Regions from separate parts of the Homo sapiens genome. Here region 2 is linked to region 1. The links come from fine-mapping of genetic effects on gene expression. A gene starts in region 1. The other region holds a variant in brackets. All regions are shown on one strand. Distances are from middle to middle.

Region 1 (2,898 bases):
CGACCACGGAAGGTCCGTGCCACTCTCGCAGGCCGCTCCCGCACAAGTGCTACCGGCCGGCGGCGGGACACTTTCTTCCTCTGGGCCAAACTCCCGCCTCCGCGCTCAGAGAGACAGGGAGCTAGCGGGCCGGCACAAGAGGCGGCTCTCTTTCTCACCGAGTCACGCTCATGCAGATGTCCCCCGGAGGGTCCAACCCGCCTTCCCCTCGCCTGCCGGGCACCCTGGCGCTCGCGCCGTCCTCCCGCGCTCCCGCTTGCCCCGAGCTCTGGAGCCCGATTCTCCCCGAAGCCGCTGATTTGCTCGGCGCTCAGCGCCTCTCGGGTTACGCGGCGGCTGGCGCGAGGGTGATGGCTGCGGTGAGAGCAGCAGCCTCAGACACGAAATGCTCAGAGCGAACCTCCGCGGCGCGGAGATCGCAAGGGAGCCCCAGCCTCCGCGCGGCCCCGCGGCGCAGCACACGGCCAGTGCACAGCTCCTCGGCTCGCGGCCGGGACCCGGGGGGCGTGCGGCCCCGGGCGCGTGCAGCCCGGGGCTCGACCTCCTCCCCCCGCAAGTTCCGCCCGGCTGTCCCCCGGTACTTCCCCCCGCCCCAGCCCCGGCCCCCAGCGCGCCGCCCGCCCCGCAATCCCCGCACAGCCCAGCAGGTGTGCGCCCGTGTCCCCGCGTGTGTGTGCCTGCGCGCCGCGGCAGGGGGCGAGGGGGTGAGGGGCGTCGAGACCCCGGCCCGCCACCTACCGTCCTCCTTGTCCAGCACCATCATCTCGGGCGCTCCGTGTCCAGCCGCAGCTAGGCTCGGCCGGGAGAAGGGCGCCGACTCGGGGCGCGCTTTGGAGGGGCGGCCGGTCTTCGGGCAGCTAGCGGGCTCTAATTACCCGCTTGTCCGGCTCTTAACCTAGATTGCACTCAGCTAGAATTACATTCAGGAGTGAAGCACTTCGCAGATACAAAAGCAGTCTCACCTACTTTTGTGCCTCAGAATTGGAAGGAACTACGAACTGCAATTTAGAGAGAGAGGGAGAGGGAGAGAGAAGGGGGAAAAGAGGATCAGAGCCGTTTCTTTGATTCTCACCTTCTAAATGGCTCAATTTGCCCAGTATAATCTGTCTTAATGTAATTGCATTTGATAGCTCATAACCCTGTCTCTGGCAACGACACAGCTTTCAGCCTCATAAAGTGTTTTCCCCTCGGATTTAATCTGAATCTCAATCTAAAATTATATTCAAAGAGATGGGGGAATCTCGTGGCCGTCTCCCGCTGCCTTTCTCCCTCAATGTATGAGGTTTGCACTCCTGCTACTGCATAAATGCACACATTTCCTGAGGCCTCCACCCTCCCGGGTTAATGGGGAGTGGAGACGCACGGCTGTCCGGCTCCGCAGCGCCACCTGGAGGCTTCTAGGTCCTAGCTCGGTGAGCGTCTTTGCTCCGATCCCAGGGTCGTGGTCTTCAATGATTGTCTGGAGGACGCATCCCATCTGTCACTCCCAGACCCTCAGCCTTGATTTTTGTCTCTTCTTCAGAGCAATATTTCTCTGATCACATCCTTTTCCTTCCTACCAGTTCTGCCCGGGGTTTCGTGTTGCTTCCCGGATTGTTTGGCAAAGTTAACCCTCTTCAGGGCACAAACGATCCTACCGAGTCTTACAGCACTACTCCTGACCCCAGCAGCACCCCCAAAAGCATCCTGACTCCATGGAGCGGGAGAGCTTATCTCAACTTCTCTCGAAGCAAGCACAGGCATGGCCTTGAAAGCTTTTCTCATTCTACAAATATTTACTGAGCATGTATTATGTGCCAAGCACAGTTCTAAGGCACTAGGGATACAGCACTGAACAAAACAAAGATTCCTGCTGCTATTATGGAGTTGACGATTCTTGCTCTGTAACTCATAAGGCAGGAAAAGAGACAGTGCCCATCTCTTCTCCTGGACCCTGCTTCTCCCCAGAATCCTGGGGCTGATGTTCTGGCTGCCTACCCTAGGAAGGCCACCTACCCACCTACTTTTTTTCTTTTCATTCCTTTTTCTTTCTTTCTGTTTTTTCTTTTTTAAGATGGAGTCTTGCTCTGTTGCCCAGGCTGGAGTGCAGTGGTGTGATCTCGGCTCACTGCAAGCTCCGGCTCCCAGGTTCCAGCGAATCTTCTGCCTCAGCCTTCCGAGTAGCTGGGATTACAGGCACACACCACCACGCCCAGCTAATTTTTGTATTTTTTAGTAGAGACGGGGTTTTACCATATTGGCCAGGCTGGTCTCGAACTCCTGACCTCGTGATCCACCCACCTCAGCCTCCCACAGTGATGGGATTACAGGCGTGAGCTGCTGCGCCTGGCCGGAAGGCCACCTACTTTTAAATCCCAAGTCTTTTTTCTTTGCCTAGACAGTACAGAGTTCCAAGGTGGGATAGAAATAATGATTTTTCTTCAGCCCAAGGAGGGCTCCAGACAGATGTGTTGGAGGCTTGGTCCTGGCAATCACTTCTGAGGACTAGACCCAGGGAAAGAGAAACGGGCTGAAGGGCCACCAGTTGGGATTCTATCTCATCTCTGCCAATTACCAACAGTGGACCTTAGCAAGTCTCTTTCTCTATCTGGGCCTCAGTTTCCTTGGCTGTGAGGTGGGAGACCTACTCTTCCTGTATCTATGGTTGCTGTGGGGGTCAGATGAGCTAATGCATGTTAATGTGCTTTGTAAACTGTGGCACTCCAGACAATGCAGGGGGATGGGGGGAGATTATCTGGTTTGAAGGAGACCTGGAGGCTAGGTCTTACCCTTTAAGCCCTGGGAGGCCCCAGTGCTTGACAGGGATGGGGAGCAGCGGGCTGCAGCCATATTCCTCTCTGCTAGGCAGGGAAGTCAGGCTTTGAGAAAACAGAAAAGCGCTGCTTCTAATGAGATGCC
Region 2 (2,898 bases), 30 kb before region 1:
CTCACGTTCCTTTTGCTCAGCCAGGCTTGCAGCAGGCCTGGCTCCCTTCCCAGTGGTCCTGAGCCCCTCCCAGGGCTCTATATTTGGGCTATTACCAGAACATGGGTGAATGGCTGGAACCTCCGTACTCAGGGGAGACCCTAGCCCACTAAATTATAGCCCAAAATGAAGGGAGACAGTGAGAGGCCCCAGCACGTGAAGCAGCTGTCCCACTCTCTCTTCCATCTACCCTGGCTCTTGGACAGGCTGGTCTTCCGAGCTCAGACCCCAGCATGTTTGTCCTGGCTCCCGCAGGGTTGTAAACTCCAGCACTGGTCGACAATCTCTTCACTGGAGGCATCTGGCACCTAGAGGACCCTGTGGAAGCCATGAGGGGTGAAGCTGCCAGCCGCCGCAGGTCCCCCTCCCCACTGCCCGTGCCCAGGCTGGCCTCTGCACAGGCAGGTTACCTTAAGACCTGGACACCCCTCCCTCTTCTGGGGTGCTGAACTGATTCCTGGCTCTGGAGAACTCTTATAGAAGCCACACAGCTTCTGCCAAAGTGTCCCATGTCCACCAAGACATGGAACACCAGGGTCAGCCTGGCTGAGAAGGCCCCAGAGCATCTAGAGACCCTTGGGTCTAGAGACCTCCCACGAGAAAGGCTGGCATCCTGGGGGAAGCCTGAGCCAGGGCAGCCCCATGGGAGGGGCCTGGGACCAGACTCCAGGTCTGCAGTCCTGTGGCTATGGGGTCCAGAGCATATCCCCCTGGTCTCTCTGGGCCTAACTTCCTTCATCTGCCCATAAGAAAAACGGAAGCAATCCCTTGCTTCTCACAGGAGAGTGGAAGAGCTCTGGGGGTCAAACAAACAAAACAGTGGAGCCAGCCTTCCTTCCTCATAGGGCATCCATGCTGTGTCTGCTCTCACCGGGCTGGTCCAGGAGACTTGAAAACACTCCTGGAAAGGTGGAGGGGCTTTCAGGAGGGGCTCTGTAGTCTCCTGCTCCCCAGATGGAGGGATAAGCTCCCCACAGGGTCCAGGCCCTCCCTCCTGCTCTGCCTTCCCCATTCCCACCTAGCCCCCCACCCAATCTGCCAGCCTGCCCCCCTGCAGACACCTCTTCCCTCCCTCCTTCCCCAGCCTGGCTCTGGGACCTGAGCCTCGGGCCATGCACTTTCCATTAAGGAGATAGCATCCCTTTGCTGAAGTCCATTTGGGATCCATTTTAGTGTTATCTAAAAATCAAATCTACATGGTAATCCTTTTAATGTACTCCTGACTTTAGAAAAAAATGGCTTTGCGCTCCTTCAGGAAAGGTTTTAAAGCATTACCCAGTAATTACTACTCACCCATGAAAACACTGATATTTCACAATGGATGATGTTTGCGCCGACACGCACGCCTGGGCACACACTCAGATGCATGCGCTGGGCCCAGCAGAATAAACCAGTCCACTCAACCCAGGGTCACCCCTAAGTCTCAGGATGTGGGGGGAACAACATTGGAGGGGAAACAGGCTGAACTCCAACCCCTACCTCTAGCAGGGGGTGGAGGCAGGGCTGCTGGTGGAAGGAGGCAGCCAGGCTGGGAGAGAAGCCTCCCAGTCTGACTCATCTGGCTGCCAGACACTCACCCTCCACTCTTTAATCTG[G/A]GGGAAAGCCAGACAGTCCAGGTGACGGGGACGCACTGCCAGAGGTCATCCCGCCCCTCCCACTCTCTCCCTCCAGCCCGGAGGAGAAATGCCCTCATCTTCACATGGACCCCAGAGCAGTCCACTAGGCCAGACCCAAGTCCCCAGCAACTCCTGCCCACCTGTCCCAGCCCAGCTGCCCCTCAGCTCCAGCACGTGGACTTTCCCAAACTGCCAAGCCCACAGGCTCCAGTACTACCAGTGCCCCTGGTTTGGATGGCAGCCTGGGGGATGCTTACCCCAGTGAGCTCCTCCAAGGCCACTCTTCCAGCCCAGAACGTCTACCTCACCCAGCTCCAGGTCACTCCAGGCTCTTCCCCGTGGCTCCCCTGCTGGAAGCCACTGTGGCCACCTCCTGGCAACTCCACTGGGCATCTGCAGCCCCTCCCACAAGCCAGTGTCTCCTGCTTGGCACTGCTGGCTCTGCCCCCTGCAGGATCCTGGAACACAGCTCCTCTCCCTCCCGCAAATGGATCTTGTTAGCTTGTGTCCCGGGGCCTTCACTCTGCTACTACTCCAGGAAGAAACGCCTTTGTCCTGCCCATCCCCACTCTCCCAAAAAGGTCAGAGTCAAGAGTGAGACTGAGGCTAAGAGTTCAGACCTTGAAATCAGGGAGCCTAGTTTCAAGTCGGAACTGCTCCAAGGAGCTGGGGGGCCTGGATTAAATCCCCCCACCTTTCTGACTGGCATGTGTGTACTGGGAGCCACAGTGGTCTTTCCGCTCAGAATGTGGTGAGGATAGAATGAGGTTCTTCTGCACATGAGGCCATAGCACAGAGTCTGGTGCCCAGGGCACAGTGAACAGGAACTGATAGTATTAACAGTCACCCCAGGATACCATCCCTGCTCGGGCACTTGCTTTCTTTTTCTTTTAACTTTTTGTCTCTTGACATAATTTCAAACTTTCAGAACACTTGCAAGAATAGTAGAAAAAATTCCTGTAAGCCCTTCACCCAGATTCCCTACATATAACATTTTACCACATTTGATTTAACCTCCATCTTTCTACCTACTTCTACCTACTTACCTATAATTTTTTCCCTAAATCATTTGAGAGTTGGTTTCAAACAGGAAGCCTCTATACCCCCTAATACTTTCGGTTTGCAAATGCTTTGCTGAAAACAAGGACATTCTCTTACATAACCACAGTATAATAATTGAAATCAGAAAATTATCATTGACATAACATTATTATCTAATCTATAGACCTCATTCAGATTTTAC

Alleles and levels. Positions count from the first base shown, and alleles are read on the strand shown. Sizes are in standard deviations (SD) of each study's normalised expression.
In carriers of allele G in region 2, the expression in left ventricle of the gene that starts at base 1,279 in region 1 tends to be higher than with A alone (small effect, 0.32 SD a copy in GTEx).

Evidence for each region. PIP is the estimated chance that this variant, and not a neighbour inherited with it, causes the effect.
Region 2: its variant is fine-mapped to the expression of LMO1 in left ventricle (GTEx, PIP 0.97).

Annotation. Positions count from the first base shown.
Region 1 is chr11:8,262,600-8,265,497 of GRCh38, forward strand. LMO1 (LIM domain only 1) reads right to left here and starts at 1,279. Exons shown (of 4, transcript NM_002315.3): 1 at 739-1,279. The coding sequence starts at 763. RefSeq lists a silencer at 401-490.
Region 2 is chr11:8,232,643-8,235,540 of GRCh38, forward strand. The region is part of intron 1 of LMO1 (LIM domain only 1); the gene reads right to left. It overlaps LOC105376536 (a long non-coding RNA gene), which reads left to right. Exons shown (of 4, transcript XR_007062582.1): 4 at 295-377. Among named protein-coding and RNA genes, the nearest start is that of LMO1, 30 kb to the right of the region's middle. The variant G/A (reference allele first, on the strand shown) is at 1,635.